Linked DNA regions of Homo sapiens. The protein of the gene in region 7 purifies or fractionates together with the protein of the main gene of each other region. This does not show direct contact. Each region holds a gene or a part of one and is shown on either strand. Other genes may lie near its edges.

Region 1 (2,680 bases), on a different chromosome or scaffold from region 7:
TGCCTCAACCTCCTGAGTAGCTGGGATTACAGGCGCCCGCCACAACACCCAGCTAATTTTTGTATTTTTAGTGCAGACGGGGTTTCATCATGTTGGTCAGGCTGGTCTCAAACTCCCGACCTTGTGATCCACCCGCCTCGGCCTCCCAAAGTGCTGGGATTACAGGCGTGAGCCACCGCACCTGGCTGTCCTCCCTTATTATATAGAAACCCTCTGAGGTGGCCTGGTGCAAGGCTGGTCAGAAGTCAATCTTGGATCTGCCTCCTGCGAGCTGTGTGGCTTTGGCCAAGTCAACACTCTTTGCTTCAGCTTCCTCACTGGTAACGTGAGACATCACAGCCCTGTCTTGAACCACAAGACACTGCTGGGGAATGTGCTTTCAAAACCATGTTGCATCCCAGAATTAGGCAATATTATACATCACCTGTACTACAGAAGATAGACATACAACCACACAGTAAGACCCCTCAAGCAAGAGTTTAAATAAAATCTTCAGCTTCAAGATTCAAGCTGATTTCAAATGATTCATTTCCTGATTAGGGGAAATTATCTCTAAATGCTTAACCTAAGCAAGGTTAATACTTCAGAGAGGAAGAGCAGTTTTAGATCAATTGTAGTTAAATAATGCCACAATTTTGTTAAATTCAGTCTGGTCCACTCTGCTAAGTTTAATAAATGCCAAGTAGGATAGCCATAAAGGGTAGAAATGTGACCACACTACCTGCTAGGCAGGACAGGCCAAGCATGAGTTCTCAAGTTATCTTATAAAGGCAGTGGCTCTATTTTTTTTGGCCACAAACAACTAGTGGAAGCCCAATACATAAAAGAGCTAAGTAAGGAGCTATGCAGAGAGAGCAGGGAGAGATGCCCGCCCATCCATCCATCCATCCATCCATCCATCCAGCAGCTGGCCCTAAAGGAGCTCCATGGAGCACAGCTTCCAAATCACAGTCCTAAGGGGCATCCTAAGTCATTAATGTGATTGAGCTCTTTCATAGTTCAGTAATGACAAAGATCAGGAAAAAAGGAAAAGCCTCTAGATTTCATATTCTAATTTTTAAACAGAAAACACACGGAGCGGCCGGGTGTGGTGGCTCATGCCTGTAATCCCTGCACTTTGGGAGGCCAAGGCGGGTGGATCACTTGAGGTCAGGAGTTTGAGACCAGCCTGGCCAACATGGTGAAACCCCATCTCTACTAAAAATACAAAAAATTAGCCAGGCATGGTGGCGGGCACCTGTAATCCCAGCTACTCGGGAGGCTGAGACAGGAGAATCGCCTGAACCTGGGAGGCGGAGGTTGCAGTGAGCCAAGCTCATACCACTGCACTCCAGCTTGGGCAACAGAGTGAGACTTCATCTCAAAAAGAAAACACACCACGCATCATGGCGCACACCTGTAGTCCTAGCTACTCAGGAGGCTGAGGTGGAAGGATCGCCTGAGCCCAGGAGTTTGGGGTTACAGTGAGCTATGATTGTGCCACTGCACTGCAGCCTGGGCAACATAGTGAGACCTTATCTTAAGAAAACAAGCAACTGTTGACCTGCATGTTCCAGAGACTCCCTACACCTTAGTAAAGAGCTTCTATTCACTAGAATAGCTGTTTAAAGGATGGTGTGAATGGTGCCAAGGCCATGGGACTGAGTTCCACTCAGGTCAGTTTACAGCAGTTCAAGACTGTTCCATAAACTTCAACCTTATGCTAGCTAAGTTTTTCACAAATGCCAGCTCTAAGAAACATATTTTCTAGGTAAACATCTGGACATGGAAGATCTCTAACACATATTATTAAGAGAAAAAGAAAAGGCAAGTTGTGAGTAATTCATTAAGATAACGTTGATAGGGCTGGGCACAATGGCTCATGCCTGTAATCCTAGCACTTTGGGAGGCTGAGGCAGGTGGACTGCTTGAGCTCAGGAGTTCGTGACCAGCCTGGGGAACATGGCGAAACCCTGCCTCTACAAAATATACAAAAATTAGCCAGGCATGGCACATGCCTGTAATCCCAGATACTCAGGAGGCTGAGGCACGAGAATCGCTTGAACCCAGGAGGCAGAGGTTGCAGTGAGCTGAGATGACACAACTGTACTCCAGCCTCAGCGACAGAGTGAGACTCTGTCTCAAAAAAAAAAAAAAGATAATTTTTTATGGGGAAATGCACCCTCACAACAAATCTAGTGTTTCCACATGAACATGCACATAGGCAAACGCAATGAAAAACAGTCTGCAAAGATACACACAAACTTACACAAGTAGTTATTTCAGAGGACTAAGATTGGGGAGGGAGCCACATTTAAGCTATCTGTAATGTTCTCATTTTGTATAAAGAGAATGTATGTATTATTTATGTAATTTTTTTTTTAAAGGGCAGAGTCTTGCTATGTTGCTGGAGATGTTCTCGAACTCCTAGGCTTAAGCAATCCTTCCTGCCTCCCAAAGTGCTGGGATTACAGGCATGAGCCACAGCACTGGACTATTTATGTTATTTAAAAAATAAGTTTAGAGCTAGATTTGATTAGAATATAGCTCATATGTAGAATGCTCAGGCCTACAGAGGAAATGGCAGTGAACCTCAGTGAGTCAGGACAAGATTCAGAGAAGAGGAGGCCTTTGGGTTTAGTGGGGTGGGGAGAGCATGCAAAGCAGAGGAAATAGGGCGGGAGGTGAGAGAACATGTTAT
Region 2 (3,500 bases), on a different chromosome or scaffold from region 7:
TTGAACAGAAACATGCCATGAACCACTCAGCAGGAGGGGGATCCTACTGAACAGAGAGGCCCATTCCGCTGGGACCTGGGCTGGATGACAGCACTGGATTTTCTCATCAGCAGATGGAGGCACGCCTCCAGGACTGCTCTGTGTTCCTTACTATTTATTTACCACCACTGCACACTCGAATTCTGTCAAGCTTCCAAAGCTGGCAGGGAAAAGGGTGGGTCCTGACCCAAGGAAAGCCAATCTGTGAGCCAGCCAAAAGCTGGTGAGTCTTTCTCAAACAGGAAAAATGGCAACAGACTGGACTGACAAGTTTCTCCCTGCCACTGGACTCTAAGAAGAAACAGAAAAAAACCCAGAAAGTTGGTGATGGGAAGGGAAAGTGAAAAAGAAACAGAAAGGAGACAAGGATGAGTCCAAAGCTGTAGGTAAGAAAAGTTGTCTGTGAGAAGGCATGAATAGGATAAAAAACAGTGGCATAAACAAGAGGGTGAGCTAGCTGGCTAATAGGCAAAGAATCAAAGACAGAGGAACTCAGGAACTATAACTGACAGGGGCATCACCTTACTCTTGCTGCTGAGAGGGCAACACGATGCTTCAGTTCTTTGATATGGAATGGATCCTTCCAATTCCTAGACTACATACTGTCCCACCCCTGTGAGGCCCAGTTATGTATCTGAGCTCATAGGAGTCCAGTTTCTGTTAGTGCCATGGGCGGCTTTAAATAGGCCTCCCTTACTGTGGAGGAACCTGGGGGAGTGACTTGGTCCTTGTATCCAAACAAGAAGCCAACCTCTTTTTAAAGTAGAACAGGGTAAAATGGGTTGGGATGCACTACATTTAGCAGCCTCCCCAATAAACTAAGCAGAAATACAGAGCTTTATTTGGGAACATCAGGATAGTTACATGTATATACAACTGACTTCAATGAAACCATGCCTTATATCTATGTTCTACAAAGAAAAAGAGAACTAAACAACTATCTAAATTTCTGATGGTAATATGGAAGTTCAGAGATAAGGTTTTAGAGTTACATTTTTGAGCTCATAAATGTATTTATCAGAATAAACACTGCCAGGTGTAGTGGCACATGCCTGTAGTCCCAGCTACTTGGGAGGCTGAGGTGGGAGCATTGCTTGAGCCCAGGAGCTCGAGGCCAGCCTGGTCAACATAATGAGACCCTGTCTCTAAAAACAAAACAAAACAAAATAGAATATTGCTAACCGCCAAGTAACTCCTTTTCTTCCCTAATAATGTAGAAAGAATACTTTCTAGTTCTAAATCTCCGATCCAAGGGATGTCACAGTTGGCTGGCCCATTCTGAAAAAAAAAGATTTATGAAGAATGGTACTTCAAAGGGACATCAGTCAGTTGTGATCCCTCTAAATATTATAAAACCAAACAGTGTACAAGTTAATTTCACCTGAGTTAATTCTCTCCAATATGGATATAACCCATGTGACAAAAGAATTATTACGATTTCTGCTGCTACCATGAGCCTAAGACATTGACAGCCATATATATATATTTTTTAACCACAAGCCTTAAGCATTCCATATGAGCATACTTGCAATGCTTCTTGATTTGTTCTTCTCTCCCTGAAACATCTGACTCCATGCCATAAATACATTTCCAGGGTTTAAATTTTTCAGAAACATTTTTTCTATTGATACCAAATTTACCTCTCCTTAAATTGAACAAGAAAATATCTGAATTTGTATCTATACATAGATATAAATTCTACGTATATATTCTGCATCTGCATCATTCTAAAATATCTGGGATGTTGTGGTAAATATGGTACTTACTGCTACCAGATTGATTTGTATCAAAACACTATATGCCCTTATATTGAACTAACTGGTAATGGCTTTAAAAATGAGAAAGTATTGATCCTTATAATTATATAAACGTTCTCTACAAACAACAAGCCCAACTTTAGTGAGTTTGGTTAGGTTCTTGTAATCTTTTCTATGCTTTCACATTAAGTTATTGTGCCCAGTCCTTTTTCTCATCTTATAAAATTAAAATGCTTCCAATAAAAGAAAAAAAATACAACACAGTTTAAAAAGTTAAAAAATAGAAAGTGAAAGTCACTTTCACAGAAAGTTGTAGAAAGTGAAAGGCCTACTCTTTAAAATAGCAAATTAAGGCTACAAATTTAAAGTTGGAAATAATAAAAATTATAAAAGTTAAAAATCTCATAGCGACATTAACTTCTTCTTGAAGAGAAAGCTTGGATTTTTAACTATTTGAGGATTTTATTGCATTTAAATCAAAACACAATCATTAGGCTTTTCTAAAACAGAACACGTGCAATGAGTAAAAATTATTTTGGAGACACTTAAAATTTTAACTTCCTAATATAAACGCTCAAATTTGCAACCTTAATGTTACATAGATTCAGATTTACACAGTCAGATTATATAAGCAAACCATATTAATGTTCCTCCTAGTCTACCATGTTATCTAAAGAGCAACTTTCCTGTACCTTGTCTCTTCTTGCCTTTCAACTGACTGTAGGTGTCCCTCTGAACCCTGGCATCAGACAAGTTGATTTAAAAAGTTAATTTAGGATACTATCAATAAAATTAGGACACTATCAATAAAATTGCACTAAATTTTAAACATATAGCATAAATTTTAGCATATAGTATACTTATATGCTAACCTATGACAAAGAAAAAATAATTTGGGGTACTTGTCAAGATTTAAGTCATTTTAATTTTAATGTCAGAACAGTGACAGGTACAGTACAGTGGTTTCACAGGCTTGGAGGAACGTAAGTGATGGAGAAGGCAGGAGAGTGAAGTTAAGGAGGTGGCAGATAGACAATGCTTAGTTCCACTTGAGACATTGTCACCAGACCTGCTGGCAACTGTACTGAAGATCATTCTATGCTAGATATGGAAGGCATGGGGTGGCATGGGAGTAAAAGGGAGGACAACCCAGATAGTGAGGAAAAAATAAGAGCGTGCTGCCCGTCAGCCAAAGGTATCTCATACTACTTCACCAGAGTTGTATGGATACTGCAAATCACACACTATTCTCAGGCATTTGTGGGGAGCAACAAAACCAGGAGTGTCATCTTCCAGAACCAGACACATGGTGATTGGAAGATGTAACAAAAATAGAATATGCACCAACATTCAAGATGTTCACTGTAGCTACCACATGAATTCCATTCTGCTTTAGATGTCTCCATTGTATTTTATGGCATTATGTGGTATAAAATTAGAAAATTTCATTGAGCAACAACTAAGACTTATGAACTCATATGCTAAGGATACGCAGATTTTAGTTAAGTATTTTAATTATTTATCTAATAAGCATTAATTAAAGAAAGACACAGAATATATGACAGAATTGAATTCAATTAACAATCATCAAGAACCAAAGTTCAGAAATAAAGGTAAAAGTTTTTTGAAACTATTATGTGAGTCATATGAGAAATTATTTGACTATAACAATTCAAGTTTCGTATTAAGTTTTAGAAACACATA
Region 3 (3,500 bases), on a different chromosome or scaffold from region 7:
TGATTGCTCAGCCATGTCTTTCCTGCAGGAAGAGGAGACCTGGCCTCCCTTGGGAAGCGTCAGGTTGCAGAGGGCCTCAGGGCCCCAGTGGTGGTCTTCACACGCCCTGGGAAACATCGGGCAGGTCCCTTTGGTGCTCAGGGTCCCACCTCATTCATTTCTGATTTGGCTTTATCCCTTCTCCTACTGTAGCCTTTGGTTTTATGGAGCAAAGGTCTGTGAGGAAACTTCTGCTGTTCTTATGTCAGAAGGAGGGGTACCCAGAGGCCCTGGGTGGTCACACTGGCCACCCTGGGATGGGGGACTTGCCACGCATGGTTGGCTGTGCCTCTGTCGACACTTTTGCCAGCTGCAGGGCCCCGCGCCCCTGCCCGCCTTGCCCTGGCCCCCCTTGTCCACTTTGGGCAGAATTCAAGGAGGCTATGAGAGGATGGGCCTCTTTCTGGCTCAGGGTGGGGGCTGTAGCATGGAGGTGACAACAGATATCCCAGTGCCCAGTCCTCAGTCCCCAGCCTGCCTCCCCTCCTCTGTGCCCCCGAGCCCCCATCTTTGTTCCTGCGTCTTCTCAGTCTGTCTCTTTCTCCTCTCTCCTGTCTTTGTTGTTGTTGTTGTTGTTGTTGTTGTTGTTGTTGTTTTGAGATGAAGTTTCACTCTGTTGCCCAGGCTGGAGTGCAATGGCATGATCTCGGCTCATTACAACCTCCCCCTCCTGGGTTCAAGCAATTCTCCTGCCTCAGCCTCCTGAGTAGCTGGGATTACAGGCACCTGCCACCACACCTGGATAATTTTTATATTTTTAGTAGAGACGGGGTTTCACCATGTTGGCCAGGCTGGTCTCAAACTCCTGACCTCAAGTGATCCACCTGCCTCGGTAATCCCAAAGTGCTGGGATTACAGGCGTGAGCCACCACGCCCAGCCTCTCCCATCTTTTTCTCAATCCCCTATTTTTGCTCCCTCTCCACTTCCTCTTCTTCTTACTTTCTCTCCCCCCTCTCGGTCTCTCTCCCTTCCTCCCTACACCTTTTTTTTTTTTTTTTTTTTTTTGAGATGGATTCTCGTTCTGTTACCCAGGCTGGAGTGCAGCGGCTCACTGCAACCCACCTCCCGGGTTCAAGCGATTCTCCTGCCTCAGCCTCCCAAGTAGCTGGGATTACAGGCATGCACCACCACACCCAGCTAATTTTTGTATTTTTAGTAGAGACGGGGTTTCATCATGTTGGCCAGGCTGGTCTCGAACTCCTGGCCTCAAGTGATCCTCCCTCCTCAGCCTCCCAAAATGCTGGGATGACAGGCGTGAGCCACCACGCCCAGCCCTTATAGCTTTTTCCTTGCAGCCTGGCTCATGCAAGTCCCCACTTCTCCGTCTCTTCTGCCCTCTTTTCTCCTACCGGATTGTCTGCCTCTGCTCTGTCCTCTGGGCCCTTGAGTCCCCGATTTCCCCTCCAGCCAGGTGCCCAGAGTGGAGAGGGGCTTGGTCGGGGAGGGCAGCAGGGAACCTGCTTGGTGGGGGAGCCCCAGCCCCCCAGATGCAGACAATTGGGCCTTGTCCACACCACCCACCCCCAGCCTGCAGGCGGTTATTCTGCACAAAGTCTGCAGTTATGAGGGGTCCATGGGAACCCCGCACCAAGGGGAGCCACTCAGCACTGCCCCCACTCTGGGGCACAGCAGCCCCGACCCCAGCCTGGCTGCCCTCTCATACCAGGCCCCTCTCCTGGACTCTCCCCTACAGGCGAGGCCCTGGGAAGGGCCAGTGTGGTGCCACTGCCCTATGAGAGGCTGCTCAGGGAGCCAGGGCTGCTGGCCGTGCAGGGGCTGCCCGAAGGCCTGGCCTTCCGAAGGCCAGCCGAGTATGACCCCAAGGCCCTCATGGCCATCCTGGAACACAGCCACCGCATCCGCTTCAAGCTCAAGAGGTGAGTGAGGTAGCCGGCCCGGGGCTGGGCTGGGGCTGGGCCAGGGCCGGGTCAGGGCCGGGGGCTGGAGGCCACTTAGCCAGAGGGGAAGGGACTTGAGATGCCCGTGGGGGACCCTGGTGGTGAAAGCTCCCAGTCTGATGGTGGAGGTGAAGTGAAAGCGAAGTCATAGAACAGGATCTGAGCCAGGTCATTAAGCCTTGAAGTCTTCCCAGGGAAGTTGCATTGCAGAGAGACTTGAAGAGACATGACTTGGGACAAAATAGCACCAAAGTGGTCGGGTACAGTAGCTCATGCCTGTAATCTCAGCACTTTGGGAGGCTGAGGTGGGAGGATCACTTGAGGCCAGGAGTTCAAGACCAGCCTGGGCAACATACCAAGACCCTGTCTCTGCCAAAAAATAAAAATAAAAAAAATTACCCAGGTGTGGTGGTGCACACCTGTCATCTCAGCTGTTCAGGAGGCTGAGGCAGGAGGCTTGCTTGAGCCCAGGAGTTTGAGGATGCAGTGAGCTGTGATTGCGTCACTGCACTCCAGCATGGGCAACAGAGCAAGACCCCATCTCTTAAAAAAAAAATATGGCATTTTAGGTGTCAGAAACGGGAGAACCATGTCCTGTGCTTGCTCAGGTTGTAAATCTGGGGTTAATTAGGGATCCAGGGGAGATTAGGTTGTTGAGGCTGGTCTGAGGCAGTACCAGTTGTCAGGAGAGCCAAGAAGGCAGCCTGAGGGCTTAAGGTTGAACCCATCTCTGCTAAGTGCCCCAGGCAATGCAGAGGCAGGAAGGGGAGGGGTGCAGCAGGAGACAGGAGGCAATCAACCGCACCTGGCGGGATCTGAACAGTGGATTGGAGCAGAGGGGCAGGGCCCAGGTCCTCCGGTGGCCTAGCTCTGTGGCCCTGGGCACACCATTCCCACCTCCGAGCCTGCATCCCCACTTGTGAAGTGGAAGAGCAGCTCCTGTCCTGCCCTCCTCATGGGGCTGTTATGTTCTGCAGAGGGCAGGGATGCGGGGTTTTCGGGGGAAGAGCTGCAATGTGTGAAACAGATGTACAAAGCTGTCCATGTGTCCTCTCCTTTACTCAGGCCACTTGAGGATGGCGGGCGGGACTCGAAGGCCCTGGTGGAGCTGAACGGTGTCTCCCTGATTCCCAAGGGGTCACGGGACTGTGGCCTGCATGGCCAGGCCCCCAAGGTGCCACCCCAGGACCTGCCCCCAACCGCCACCTCCTCCTCCATGGCCAGCTTCCTGTACAGCACGGCGCTCCCCAACCACGCCATCCGAGAGCTCAAGCAGGAAGCACCTTCCTGCCCCCTTGCCCCCAGCGACCTGGGCCTGAGTCGGCCCATGCCAGAGCCCAAGGCCACCGGTGCCCAAGACTTCTCCGACTGTTGTGGTAACATTGCTGCTGGGATCTCCAAGTCTAGGGGGTGGGACAGAGGTCACTCATGCAGGGGACAGCCTCCCAGGGCAGGTCAGGATGCCTGGGCCCTCTTAGGTTGGAAGGAGCCATGTCTGGGCATGGGAGTGGGACTGGACAGATGGTGTCCTGGCTGAGACCCCCTTGGACCTTGGGTCTCTG
Region 4 (3,500 bases), on a different chromosome or scaffold from region 7:
CTGATAATACCAGCTTCATATGGTGGCTGTGAAAATGAAATGAATGAAATGAAGTAATACTTGTATATACCTAAAAGCCTAAAAGAAGCTTAAAGTAACTCCACACTCTGGTGTGTTTCCTTCTGGTCTGTTTTTGCCTCTGATAGTATTAATAGGATTATATAATGTATCCTTTCAAAAATATATAGTTTTATTTTGTTTTCCTCCCAATTAACATTGTATCATGCTTTCTCATATCATATGCTTCTTTGAAACATGAACTTAGAGTGGCAAGGTGTTCTCTGAGATGGACATTCTGCTGTTTTCTCTTTACAGTTTCAGAAGAGGAGCCCCGCCGAGGCATGAGGGCCGTGCTCCCCCCAGAGGAAGGGATGGTTTTCCTGGTCCTGAAGACTTTGGTCCAGAGGAGAATTTTGATGCTTCTGAGGAAGCGGCCCGAGGACGAGATCTCAGAGGTCGAGGTCGGGGTACCCCACGAGGTGAGCGAGTTACTAAAGACACCTGGTCTGGAAGGATAGGGTGCAGAATACACTGGTTGTGAATACACCAGGAACAGTCTGAGTGCAGCATTGTTTGCTCTGTTGTGTAGGAGGAAGGAAGGGTTTACTTCCCACTCCTGACGAGTTCCCTCGCTTTGAAGGAGGGCGGAAGCCAGATTCCTGGGATGGAAACAGAGAGCCTGGTAAGGAAAAGAACCGCTTGTTGGGTAACTCTAGACTGCAGTTCACAAAGTGAGTTCTGAGGGCCCTCTCTGGGGTGCACCGGGTCTCCTCTTTCCAGCTCATGTCTCCCGGGGGGCTGGGCTGTCTCCTGTCCTGCAGCCGCAGCACTTGATCTCAGCAGGTGGAATGCAGAGCAGAGGAATCCGCCAGACATTACAGGGATCTATCTGAGTATAAAACGGGACTGCTCTTTCCACTAAATTGCTTTTGGAGAATAAAGTTAAGTGAATTAAAATTTCCCCAGTCTCAATTGCTAATATGGTAAATATTCGCAGTTACAACTCTCATTAACAAAATCTCTTAGGAGTCCTCAGTAATTTGAGACTGTAAAGACGTCTTGATACTACAATGCCTGAGAACGAGTTCTCTGGATCTTACCTGCCCCTCTTACATGAGGAGGCACCCTGATGTCTGGGTGGCTTACCCTTTGGCCTCTGGCGGGCATTCAGCATGAGTGAACGGTGGCTCTCGAGTTGCTCCTTACTCTCACAGTGTCATTCCCATCTACTTCTGGTCACACTGTGCTTTCCTGTAAGGAGATTTGTTTCTTGTTTCAGGGCCAGGTCATGAACATTTTCGTGATACTCCCCGCCCTGATCATCCCCCTCACGACGGTCATTCCCCAGCCAGCAGAGAACGCTCCTCTTCTCTCCAAGGCATGGACATGGCATCCCTACCTCCCCGAAAGCGCCCCTGGCATGATGGCCCAGGCACTTCTGAGCACAGAGAGATGGAGGCCCCAGGAGGCCCTTCTGAAGACCGAGGAGGCAAAGGTAAGAGCAGGCCAGTGGTTATGGTTCCAGGAGATGCAGGGGCCGATGGAGGCCTTGCCTGTATCTGCTGCACATGCCCTTGCAGCCTGGGCTGTGCAGAGGCACATGCTCCTAAATGTGGTGCCAGTGCCACACGAGCTGTCATCTGGTGGACTGCAACTCAGCCCTGCACAGGACTCCACTTGCCTCCGGGAATCCCTGTTCACTTGAGGTTTTCACTTCAGCCCTCTGCCAAGATGCCCCAGCACTCTCTGCTCGGCTTGCTGTCTGGGAGCCCTGCTCTCCTTGGCAGTCTGCCCTCCACAAGGCTGCTTGGAACCCTCAAGGGCTCTCAGTGGGAGGGGAAGAGTTGTCCTCTCCTGGGTGGTCTGTTGGTTTTTTTAGCCTGGGTCTAGAGGAACACTGCTTGTGCTCAAAGTCACAGAGACTTTGGGAAACATGGTCTATGGGCAGTGTTTCCAGGGGCACAGTAGATTATCTCCTCAACTGGGAACTGTGGAGCTTTATGTTATAGGCAGCACTAACTTTAGCCAGGAGTAGTTGCCTCTGAAGGCTGACTATACAACTCTGGTTGCAAGGCAGCGGGGGAGGTGCATAGGTGGTGTGGCTCGGAAGCTTCTGGGAAGGCTGCTCCCCGCATGCCCCAGCTTGTGCTCTGCTCCTGAAGTTGGCCTGTCTGTATGGACGGTCCTTCCAGTACAGAGTTCTGCCATTTGGTCTTTTTGGGTTTTTTTCTGTCGCCCAGGCTGGAGTGCAGTGGTGTGATCTTGGCTTACTGCAAGCAACCCCCGCCTCCCAGGTTCAAGTGATTCTTGTGCCTCAGTCTCCCCAGTAGCTGGAACTACAGGTGTGCGCCACCATGCTTTTGTGTTTTTAGAGAGATGGGCTTTTGCCATGTTGGCTAGGCTGGTCTCGAACTCCTGGCCTCAAGTGATCCACCTGCCTTGGCCTCTCATGAGCCACCATGCCTGGCCTGCCATTTGATCTTGATAGTTGTTTGTCTCAACAAAACCCTCAGAAATTACCTTATGTATCATCAATAGATCACCCTGCATAAACACATTGTACTACTAGCCAGTGTGCTGTGACCTTGGCTGACTTTCTTGGGCACTCAGCACACCATTATTAGGTCCCTCTGGTCAAGGACATGCAGTTAGCATGGGAATGATGTAGTAGCTGACACTCTGCCCAGGTGCCTCAGGTGGGTTGAAGCTGCACTTTCTAAGAAAAGAAGCCAAGATTGTTCCTTTGGCTGGCTCTCCTAACTTCATCTCAGCTAGATTCATATTCTATTACAAAATATGAGACAGCGGAGAGTTTGCAGTCATCTTCTGAGAGTGCATTATGGGAGATGTGACCAAATCCTATCATTTCCTGAGGAAAAAAATCTTACAAGATAGAATTTTTTTTCCTTTTCCTTTCTTTTTTTTCTTTTTTTTTTTTTTTTAAATATATTCTCAAGCTGCAACAGAATGAAAGAATTTTAATAGTACCTAAACATTTGTGCATACTAGTCTGAAGCAGGTTAAGCTGTGCCTCGGTGATAGAACCTGAAAGCCAGTGTTTTGTGGGGTTTTTGGGTTTTTGTGCTTTTCTTTTGTTTTTTCAAGAAATACTTTATTTTACTAATTATGAAAAGGAAGCCAAAAGTGCCACATGTCACGGGACAGTCCCAGTGAACGCTTGTCCTAGTTGGAGCACTTTTTATTAACATTAGCAGTGTGTACTTCCAAAGTTAAGTCAGTATATTCAAACCTTCCCTCAATATACCCTGGTGGCTGGGAGCAGGCAGATACACTTCCCATGGCCTGGGACATGGCCCAGTGTGGCCCGGGTCTCCCTGAAGGTGCTCCTTGCTCATCTCTTGGCTTCCTGTCGTCTGTCACACAGCCCTGGGGGCATGGATCTGGCTGATGCTGAGGCCCATGGCCATGAGCCAGGAAGGGGGAGGCAGGGTCAGGAAAGGGTAGAGGCACACCTCTCAGTACGCTGAATACCACTGCCA
Region 5 (3,500 bases), on a different chromosome or scaffold from region 7:
CTTGCTGTGAGCTGAGATGGTGCCACTGCACTCCAGCCTGGGTGACAGAGCGAGACTCTGTCTCAAAAAAAAAAAAAACCCCACACAAAAATTAGCCAGGCATGGTGGTGCATGCCTGTAACCTCAGCTACTTGGGAGGCTGAGGCAGGAGAATCGCTTGAACCCAGGAGGCGGAGGTTGCAGTGAGCTGAGATTGCACCAGTGCACTCCAGCCTGGGTGACAGAGTGAGACTCCATCTCAGAAAAAAAAAAAAAAAAAAAAGATAAATAATCTAAGGTTTCACCTTAAGCAGGTAGGAAAAGTGAATCAATGCCGGGCGCGGTGGCTCATGCCTGTAATCCCAGCACTTTAGGAGGCCGAGGCAGGCGGATCGTGAGGTCATGAGATCGAGACCATCCTGGCTAACGCGGTGAAACCCCGTCTCTACTAAAAATACAAAAAATTAGCTGGGCGTGGTGGTGGGCACCTGTAGTCCCAGCTACTTGGGAGGCTGAGGCAGGAGAATGGCGTGAACCCAGGAGGCGGAGCTTGCAGTGAATCAAGATCGTGCCACTGCACTCCAGCCTGGGCGACAGAGCAAGACTCCATTTCAAAAAAAAAAAAAAAAAAAACAAAAGAAAAAGATAAAGTGAATCAAATAAAACCCACAGTAAGTGGAAGGTAGAAAATTAAGAGGAGGTCAACGCACTTTACACAGACTACTGACAGACACAAATCAACAGAGCCCAAAGTTAGTTATGAGAAGGTTAATAAACTTGGTAAATCCCTAGCAAGCCTGATCAAGAAAAATACTAGAGAAAACACAAATTCTCAAAAACCAGAACAAAAGAGGGGGCATCACTACAGATCTTACAGGCAGGAGAGGGGATTAATAACCGAAACCTTCCCACAAAGAAAATCCTGTGCTCCGAGGGCAGCACTGGCAAATCCTAACAAATATCTAAGGAAGAAACAATAACAAGCTTTCACAAACTCTTTTTTTTTTTTTGAGACAGAGTCTCACTCTGTCTCCCAGGCTGGAGTGCAGTGGCGCAATCTCAGCTTACTGCAAGCTCCGCCTCCGGGGTTCACGCCATTCTCCTGCCTCAGCCTCCCGAGTAGCTGGGACTACAGGCACCCGCCATCCCACCTGGCTAATTTTTTGTATTTTTAGTAGAGACGGGGTTTCACCATGTTAGCCAGAATGGTCTTGATCTCCTGACCTTGTGATCTGCCCACCTCAGCCTCCCAAAGTGCTGGGATTACAGGCATGAGCCACCGCGCCCGGCCCACAAACTCTTTCTGAAAACAGAAGAGGAGGGAATACTTCCCCACCCATTTTATAAAACCAACATAACCCTGCCACACAACCTGCCATAGGCATTATACGAAAATTACAGACCAGTACCTCTAATGGACATCAACACAAAATACCCCTAACAACAATATTACCACATCAGTCCCTCAACACAGGAAAAAGGATCACACACTTGGAATAAATGAGGATTAGGCTGGTTCAACATTCAAAACAGTCAATCAGTGTGGTCCAGTACATTGAGACTGTCTCAAAAAAAAATAAAATAAAATAAAATAAATATAAAATAAAATTTAAAAATTAAATAAAAAAATAAATAAAATAAAATAAAATAAAATAAAATGGATCCTGGCCCTAAACGCAAAAGCCTACACTGGGAAGCATCCAAAAGAAAACACAGGAACTGGCCCAGCGCGGCGGCTCACGCCTGTAATCCCAGCACTTTGGGAGGCTAAGGCTGGTGGATCACCTGGGATCAGGAGTTCGAGACCAGCCTTGCCAACATGGTGAAACCCCATCTCTGATGAAAATACAAAAAATGAGCCGGGCATGGTGATGGATTCCTGTAATCCCAGATACTCAGGAGGCTGAGGCAGGAGAATTGCTTGAACCCAAGAGGTGGAGGTTGCAGTGAACCAAGATCACGCCACTGCACCCCAGCCTGGGTGACACAGCAAAGCTCCACCTCAAAAAAAAAAAGAAAAAAGAAAAGAAAAAGAAAACACAGGAACTTCCACAGTGAATTCCTAATTTACAAAAAATAAAAGAAAACACGGAAGAAATCTCCAGAAATTTGGTCAAAGGATGACTTCTTAGGATGCCAAAAACCCTAAACCATAAAAGAAAAACACATACGAATGGACATCATAAAAATTAATTTCCACTTATCAAACCACAATGATGGAGGCCGGACGCAGTGACTCAGTCCGTCATCCCAGCACTTTGGGAGGCAGGTGGATCACCTGAGGTCAGGCACTGGGGACCAGCCTGGCCAACATAGTGAAAACAGGTGGATCACTTGAGGTCAGGCGTTGGGGACCAGCCTGGCCAACATGGTGAAACCCCATCTGTACTAAAAATACAAAAATTAGGCCAGGCACGGTGGCTCACGCCTGTAATCCCACCACTTTGGGAGGCTGAGGTGGGTGGATCAATTGAGGTCAGGAGTTCAAGACCAGCCTGGCCAACATGGTGAAACCCCATCTCTGCTAAAGATATAAAAAATTAGCTGGGTGTGGTGGTGCGTGCCTGTAATCCCAGGTACTGGGGAGGCTGAGGCAGGAGAATCACTTGAACCCTTGAGGCGGAGGTTGCAGTGAACCAAGATCACGCCACCGCACTCCAGCCTAGGTGACAGGGTGAGACTCTGTCTCAGAGAAAAAAAAATTTAGCCAGGCGTGGTGGCGGGCGCCTGTAGTCCCAGCTACTCAGGAGGCTGAGGCAGGAGAATGGTTTGAACCTGGGAGGCAGAGGTTGCAGTGAGCTGAGATCGCGCCATTGCACTCCAGCCTGGGTGACAGAGCGAGACTCCGTCTCAAACACACAAACAAACAGAAACTGTGGTGATGAAGGCAGGCAGGTGTTGCCAGAGGTTGGGGGTAGCCACCAAGGTCGGGGATTCACAGGTTTGGAGTGATGGGGCTGATGGGTCGACTATGGTGGCAACAGAACCACACCCCCACGTACACATGGCTTTTACTGTGTGATAACTTAGAAAAAAGCAAACCATGGACCCGGGCTCAGGTGCCCCCCACCCACTGTCAGGGCCAATCTGATCCGGCCCCCACCTGGCTGGAGAGACTTCCCACCAGACTCTCACCCTCTCTCTGGTCCCCAGTGTCCTCATCGGGGAGAGGCAGGAAAGCCCCACCCACCCTCCACTCCTCACTCTGTTGGCCTCTGGGCAGACGAGGCTCCTGCTGGCTGGGGGCCAGGCCAGGCCAGCTGGGGCCAAAGTCCAGGAGCCAGGCTGAGAGGCCCCAGGCTCCTCCCGAAGAGGGCAGAGTCCCTGAGAAAGGTGGTGGAGCTGCCCAGGAAGAGGGGACTAAAGTGAACTCGGCCACTGCTCTGTGCCTTCCCCTGGACACTGAGCTGGCCGAAGTCACCAGCCTGGCTGTATGCAGGGTCTAGCTGCCCAGGCTGCTGGGAGGGCCCTGGTCACCCAAAACAGCCCGATTCAAGAGCTCAGGGACTCCTGATGGCTCT
Region 6 (3,500 bases), on a different chromosome or scaffold from region 7:
TACAAAGGTGTGATCTTGACTCACTGTAACCTCCGCCTCCCGGGTTCCAGTGATTCTCCTGCCTCAGCCTCCTGAGTAGCTGGGATTACAGGCATCTGCCACCACGCCCAGCTAATTTTTGTATTTTCAGTAGAGATGGGGTTTCACCATGTTGGCCAGGCTGGTCTCAAACTCCTGACCTCAGGTGATCCACCCGCCTCGGCCTCCCAAAATGCTGGGATTACAGGCATGAGCTACCGCGCCCGGCCCCTCACAGTCTGACAAACTCACAGTGCCCACCTCATGGTGCCCCGAGGCCTGACCTGGAGCCCAGGGGGGTGAGGGAAAACCGGCCGGGTGCACCTGTCATAGCTGACCTGGAGACCAGGGGGGTGAGGGGGAAGACGGCCAGGCGCACCTGTCATAGCTGACCTGGAGACCAGGGGGTGAGGGGAAGGTGGTGGGCGCACCTGTCATAGTCCTGGCAGATCTCGCCCACGGACACCAGTGCCTTCAGGTACTCGTTCGGCTGGTAGGGGTTGATGTAGTGCAGGGAGCAGCTGTTCCGCGGGTCTCCATTGGAGGCGGTGAAGTCAATGGCCACCTGCAGTGGGCCGGGAGCCAGGAGCTGTGCTGGGCCGGGGCTCCCCGAACCCGCTCCTGACAGGTAGAGAAACCACGCCCAGAGTGGCCAGGACTCAGGGTCAGGGGTCGCGTAGGTGGGTAGGGCTGGGGGGCTGCTGTTGGGGCTGACCCACCTGCTACACAGGGCCAGGAGAGGTCTCCTCAAAACCTGCCAGCCCCTAGGCTCCCTGGATCTCCGGGAGGACACCCCACCAGGATCACCCTGGCCTTGTGGGGGCCCCGCCCATCCTTCTTAGTGGCCGCCCAACCCCTCTACCACCCTCCCCGGCAGGGCCTAAGTGGACCAAGCCTGGTCTGGGTCCCCCCACGTTTCCCACTTGCTGGCTTCTCCCAAAGCCATTCTGGGGCTCGTTCAACAAAACACGAACCAGCGCATCTGCAAATAACACGCGGGTGACACGGGGGCCGTGTATCTGTGGGTGACACGCGGGTGACACGGGGGCCGTGTATCTGTGGGTGACACGCGGGTGACACGGGGGCCGTGTATCTGTGGGTGACACGCGGGTGACACGGGGGCCGTGTATCTGTGGGTGACACGGGGGCCGTGTATCTGTGGGTAACACGGGGGGCCGTGTATCTGTGGGTGACACGCGGGTGACACGGGGGGCCGTGTATCTGTGGGTAACACGGGGGGCCGTGTATCTGTGGGTGACACGGGGGCCGTGTATCTGTGGGTAACACGGGGGGCCGTGTATCTGTGGGTGACACGCGGGTGACACGGGGGCCGTGTATCTGTGGGTGACACGCGGGTGACACGGGGGGCCGTGTATCTGTGGGTAACACGGGGGCCGTGTATCTGTGGGTGACACGCGGGTGACACGGGGGGCCGTGTATCTGTGGGTGACACGGGGGCCGTGTTTCTGTGGGTGACACGCGGGTGACACGGGGGCCGTGTATCTGTGGGTGACACGGGGGTGCTATGGGGGTGACACGGGGTGTGCGTATCTATGGGTGACGCGGGGTCTGCGGGTGACATGGGGGTGACACGGGGTCTGTGCCGGGCTCCTTGGATGACACGTAGAGACTGTGGCTGGTTCACTCAAACGCTCACTCCAGTTTCTCCTCGTTCACGTTTTGTCTGTTGTTAAATGTGTTTGTGGAAGGTAAGCCCTGGTGATGTCACCTCCCAAGGCGGGCTTGGGGCTGCTTCCTGAACCCCAAGCCCGTTTCCTCGCCTGCGCAAAAGGGAGGACCCCCAGGAGCCGCGCATGGAGACATCGGCTCACGGGGAACCGCCAGTGCCCTTTCACCCGCCAGGCTGGGACCCCTCGGGAGCGGGGCGGGGGCGGGGGCGGGGGCGGGGCCACGGACTGAGGGGGCGGGGATGGGCGGGGCCACAGACTGAGGGGGCGGGGATGGGCGGGGCCACAGACTGAGGGGGCGGGAGGGGCGGGGCCACGGACTGAGGGGGCGGGGATGGGCGGGGCCACAGACTGAGGGGGCGGGGAGGGGCGGGGCCACGGACTGAGGGGGCGGGGCGGGGCGGGGCCACGGACTGAGGGGGCGGCATGGGGCGGGGCCATGGACTCACGGTGAAGTGGATCTGGCAGCCGCCCATGATATAGTCCAGGAAGGAGTACACCCTGTGGAACTTCCGGCCGGCGGAGTCAGCGTCCACCCCCGCCAGGGACACTGAGGCCAGTGCCAGCTGGGATCCAGGCCTGCCTCCCGCAGGCAGCCCAGTCCCTCTGGGGTGCCACCCTCCTCTCCTCTCCCCCATCCTCTCTCCCCAACCTCGCCCTTCCCCGTCTCTCAGCCCCTCCCCAGACGTGCTGGGGCCCACCAGGCCTCTGGTTGAGGGTCCATCCAACAATCAGAGGGAGGCAGCGGAAGCCCCTCTTGTGGGTGGGGAGGCTTCGGGCACAGCCACCTCTCACCTTGAGGTCAGCCAGGACGACCACTCCTGAGTTCTTATAACTGCGTCTCTTCTGCTTGTATTTGGGGTTCACACAGTCCCACTGGGCCTGGGGCAGGAACAAGCAGAGGCCCCCCAGAGTGGTGGCTCTGAACACCTACCAGGGAGACCCTACCCAAGACCATCCCCAATAGCGACGGCAGAGGGCCCCGTGGTGGGGAGGGGAGGGGAGGGCACTGCTGCAGGGCAGCAGGAAGGGGCAGAGTGGGTCATACGGGAATGAAGAGGGATGGGAGTTGCATCCCCCACCCGGCATGGCCCTGTCATTAAGCCCAAGGACACTGAGGCCCAGGGACGGGGGAGGAAGCAGGGCCCAGGGTGGCCTCCCCACTGCACCCTCACCCGGCTGCTGTGGGCTGGGCAGACACAGGGGAGGGCACCCCTTGGCCCCACCTCCCACCACCCCTGTGCCCAGACCCAGATGGTGCCTGAAATGTCCAGCTGAACCTGATGGGGGCCACCCCTGCTATGACCCCTCAGGAGCCAGCACCAGGGTCCACCATCCTCAGCCTTCTCTGGTTATAACAAGTCATTGTCACCACTCCCCACAACCCCATCAGGACAGTGGGACAGGGTTTCACAGCCTCTGTGGCAGGGCCAACACAGGCGTAGCCCAGGTGTGCCCCCGACTCACCTGCCCCTCCCCAGAGGCCCCCCTCACCTGCCCCTCCCTGAATGCCCCCTCCCCCTGCTAACTGCCCCTCCCTGGAGGCCCCCCTCACCTGAACCTCCCCAAAGGCCCCCCCAACCTGCTCCTCCCCAGAGGTGCCCACCCACATGCCCCTCCACGGAGGCCCCTACCCCACCCCCCACCTCCTCACCTGACACTTCCTGGAGGTACCCCCCCAGTCCTGCTCACCTACCCCTCCCCGAAGGCCCCCCTCCACCCCCACCTGACCCTCCCTGGAGGACCCCCTACCCCGTCCTGCTCACCTGCCCCTCCTCAAAGGCCTTCTGCATC
Region 7 (2,766 bases):
CACACTTACCCACCCAATCTCGACTCTCATTACCCCAACATGTGATTCTGCCCCAGAACTGAGTTTTCTATCGACCAAGGTCCCTGAGAGAGTAACTTAGCTTCACTCTAGTTTTCCCACATATGAAACAGAATGTTAAGGATTATTGTAAGGATTAAATGAAAACATCTCATAAGCAATACATACATACTACAGCGTGTTATTCACTTTTACCGTTGAGAGTAAATGTGGTTAAGACCCTCTTGCCCCAGGCTCTATCCTCTCAACAGGTGGCTGCCCTACTCCCAGCATGGCCTTTTCTTTCTAACCAGACTAGTGCTGCCCCGAGTCATTCAGGAATTCAATCTGAACTCTTGGTGACACAAAAATTATGTAGAAATTTAAATGGAAACCAAAGTAGTGTCTTCTGTTGTCTAATAAGGAAAATGCTAAACAAAAGCAAAAACAAAAAACCACTTAACACCAAGTTCTCTTCCAAAAAAGCCAAACATACAACACTGTTATTAATAAGCAAAACCTCTTAGGGTTAAAAGTGTAATTTTATTTAGATGTTACTTGTACATAATCTATAGTAAGATATACAAACAGATAAAAATTGTTTAACAGTTTTTTTTAATACCACTTTAAATTCAATTTACAACAGCATTGGTAATACTGCAAGATGACAGATACTATGATTTATAAAACAAAAATTACTTGCTACTCTGGCTGATACATTCCCACTAGTCTTTAATGGATTAATATGTATCATGTATTTTAATTGCAAATTATTATAAAACTTTTACAACCTAGCCACTTGGAGCTCAGAAAACATTTTGATGTTCTAAAAACTTACTGAGATGAAAATGTTAATTTTTGAATAGTATCCTTAGTAAAGAAAAACATCAGTGTAGCCAAGCTTACGGTCTGGGGCTGACAGTGCAAACTCACTTGCCTTGTGCTCCGCCGCCTCCTGTGTGCGCAGCCATCGGGGACTGGGCAATCTTCCCATCCCTTCCCTAGGTCTACGCTATGAGAGAAAAGCTTAGGAGACATTAAACTAAAACAGACGTGGAGAAATAATACGAGGGACAATTTAAAATTACCTTACAATTTATAACTATAATTTAAAACACAAAGTTTGGAGAAATGAAATGTGCTTTTGGATGTTTCTTCTCCATTTGTTTTGGTAAATAGTTTTTGAAAATGAAACTGAAAATTCAAATCTTCTCTTTATTCTTTTCATTGTAATACCATATTAGAAAAGATCTGGATTTAAATTTCAGAATAAATTGAATTTGCTGGAAAAATACTCTAAAAATAATCTAAATTGGATTTCAGTCATTTTCCATTCTTTTAAATGTTATGGTACACAACAGGGCAAAAGCTTTTTCGCAAGTCATAAAATTGAGTTGAAAATAACTTGTTGATTCAGCTACAGGAAGACAACTAACAATTAACAGGCTCATGAATATTTATGAATAAAGTGCCACTAATTTTATTGTAATAAGATATAAATAGAATAAATCCTGACATGGATAGTAGCTTCTGTGTTCTCTCCATCCTGAGAACAGAAGGGCCATAAAAAAACAAAGAAGCATTACCAAAGGGGAGTTCTAGACCCACACGGGGAACTCCTAATACAAAAGCAACAAGAAAGACAAGTAAGACTTTAAAAGTTGCAGAAGTCCTAAGAATAGCGCCAATGTAGTAGGCCCTTTTTAACAACAACAAAAAAAAAAAAAAGAGAGAGAGAGAGAAATTAGAAATTTAGAAGTTCATTAATAACTGTTACTTATATTCAAGGAATTTATAGTGACAGCCTAGTGGTGACCAGCTCTAGGAAAAGACGCTGAAGAGGACGCTCCCAGCACCTGGGACAGAGGAGAGAACAGACACACCAGGGAAGCAGCCTTGGAAAGGGGATGCAGACATGAGGCTTTTCAGGGCTTCAGATCTACATGACTGCACCCAATGGACAGGCTCTGTACAATCACTGCCCACAAGCCCAACAGGTAGCCACTCGAGACACACACACTGAGGGGACTTCGGGGCTGGCTGACTTGCTCAGATGCATTTTAACAAAAACCCCCATCACCATCCTGCTCACATTCCTACCGTCACCTCAAACATCTCTGCTTTTAGCTCCAGATTCTTCTCAACATAACTGAGTAACTAACCACAATGGATATGAAATACTGTTGAGTAGGTTAAAGTCCTTAATAAGTCAAGCGTCTTAGCATATTTTTGAAGTCGTATCTATAATCAAAGCCTGGAGCACCTGTTTGTTCAACACAGTTATCTTTCATCCAGAATTACAAAATATAGAAGCTGTCATTCTTGAGTTTCCCCATGGGTCCCTGGTATTGCCCACGTGGGAACAACAGGAAGGGTGGAGGTGAGGGCACAGCACTGTACTACAGCTGCAGGGCTGATCAAGGGAATCTCATGAGGTGCTTTTTATCATTTAATGTGCCAACAACAGGAGGACAACCATGTGCTTCTAGAACAGGGTGAAGGCCCTCCTCACGGGAGTGATCCCTAATCTGGCCCCAGCACCGTGAAAGGTGAATAGCTGTCAATATCTACTTTCACCTAAACCTAAGCTTTTAAAATTCTGACCAAGTGGTGAAAGGTGCCATCTAAAGTGCTCTCTGTTGCTCGCTGAGGAGCTAAGAACTCCTGCGGCTCACTCAGGACACAGGTGTCAGGAAACTAAAGGAGCAGGGCTCCTTTGCAGCCCAGGCCCTGTGCCGCAGCTCTGCCCAGCTCAGCGGTGTAGCTCCC

What was found.
Region 1: the proteins of WASF3 (region 7) and SUPV3L1 purify together in Homo sapiens (affinity purification with mass spectrometry; one large-scale study listed by BioGRID and IntAct). This does not show direct contact.
Region 2: the proteins of WASF3 (region 7) and CD47 purify together in Homo sapiens (affinity purification with mass spectrometry; one large-scale study listed by BioGRID and IntAct). This does not show direct contact.
Region 3: the proteins of WASF3 (region 7) and GTF2IRD1 purify together in Homo sapiens (affinity purification with mass spectrometry; one large-scale study listed by BioGRID and IntAct). This does not show direct contact.
Region 4: the proteins of WASF3 (region 7) and WDR33 purify together in Homo sapiens (affinity purification with mass spectrometry; one large-scale study listed by BioGRID and IntAct). This does not show direct contact.
Region 5: the proteins of WASF3 (region 7) and EPS8L2 purify together in Homo sapiens (affinity purification with mass spectrometry; one large-scale study listed by BioGRID and IntAct). This does not show direct contact.
Region 6: the proteins of WASF3 (region 7) and CPNE7 purify together in Homo sapiens (affinity purification with mass spectrometry; one large-scale study listed by BioGRID and IntAct). This does not show direct contact.

Annotation. Positions count from the first base shown.
Region 1 is NC_000010.11:69,204,234-69,206,913, reverse strand, and holds part of SUPV3L1 (ATP-dependent RNA helicase SUPV3L1, mitochondrial), read right to left. Parts: intron 1-2,680. UniProt on the Homo sapiens protein: Major helicase player in mitochondrial RNA metabolism. Component of the mitochondrial degradosome (mtEXO) complex, that degrades 3' overhang double-stranded RNA with a 3'-to-5' directionality in an ATP-dependent manner.
Region 2 is NC_000003.12:108,053,032-108,056,531, forward strand, and holds part of CD47 (leukocyte surface antigen CD47 isoform 1 precursor), read right to left. Parts: intron 2,536-3,500; exon of another isoform or gene 2,489-2,535; intron 1,318-2,488; exon of another isoform or gene 1,222-1,317; intron 1-1,221. UniProt on the Homo sapiens protein: Adhesive protein that mediates cell-to-cell interactions. Acts as a receptor for thrombospondin THBS1 and as modulator of integrin signaling through the activation of heterotrimeric G proteins.
Region 3 is NC_000007.14:74,516,406-74,519,905, forward strand, and holds part of GTF2IRD1 (general transcription factor II-I repeat domain-containing protein 1), read left to right. Parts: intron 1-1,733; coding exon 1,734-1,917; intron 1,918-3,003; coding exon 3,004-3,314; intron 3,315-3,500. UniProt on the Homo sapiens protein: May be a transcription regulator involved in cell-cycle progression and skeletal muscle differentiation. May repress GTF2I transcriptional functions, by preventing its nuclear residency, or by inhibiting its transcriptional activation.
Region 4 is NC_000002.12:127,706,672-127,710,171, reverse strand, and holds part of WDR33 (pre-mRNA 3' end processing protein WDR33), read left to right. Parts: intron 1-315; coding exon 316-479; intron 480-589; coding exon 590-682; intron 683-1,279; coding exon 1,280-1,495; intron 1,496-3,500. UniProt on the Homo sapiens protein: Essential for both cleavage and polyadenylation of pre-mRNA 3' ends.
Region 5 is NC_000011.10:712,731-716,230, reverse strand, and holds part of EPS8L2 (epidermal growth factor receptor kinase substrate 8-like protein 2), read right to left. Parts: intron 1-3,500. UniProt on the Homo sapiens protein: Stimulates guanine exchange activity of SOS1. May play a role in membrane ruffling and remodeling of the actin cytoskeleton. In the cochlea, is required for stereocilia maintenance in adult hair cells.
Region 6 is NC_000016.10:89,585,758-89,589,257, reverse strand, and holds part of CPNE7 (copine-7), read right to left. Parts: coding exon 3,473-3,500; intron 2,589-3,472; coding exon 2,502-2,588; intron 2,216-2,501; coding exon 2,156-2,215; intron 1,703-2,155; coding exon of another isoform or gene 1,664-1,702; exon of another isoform or gene 584-1,663; coding exon 450-583; intron 1-449. UniProt on the Homo sapiens protein: Calcium-dependent phospholipid-binding protein that may play a role in calcium-mediated intracellular processes.
Region 7 is NC_000013.11:26,686,683-26,689,448, reverse strand, and holds the end of WASF3 (actin-binding protein WASF3), read right to left. Parts: 3' UTR 501-2,766; downstream 1-500. UniProt on the Homo sapiens protein: Downstream effector molecules involved in the transmission of signals from tyrosine kinase receptors and small GTPases to the actin cytoskeleton. Plays a role in the regulation of cell morphology and cytoskeletal organization.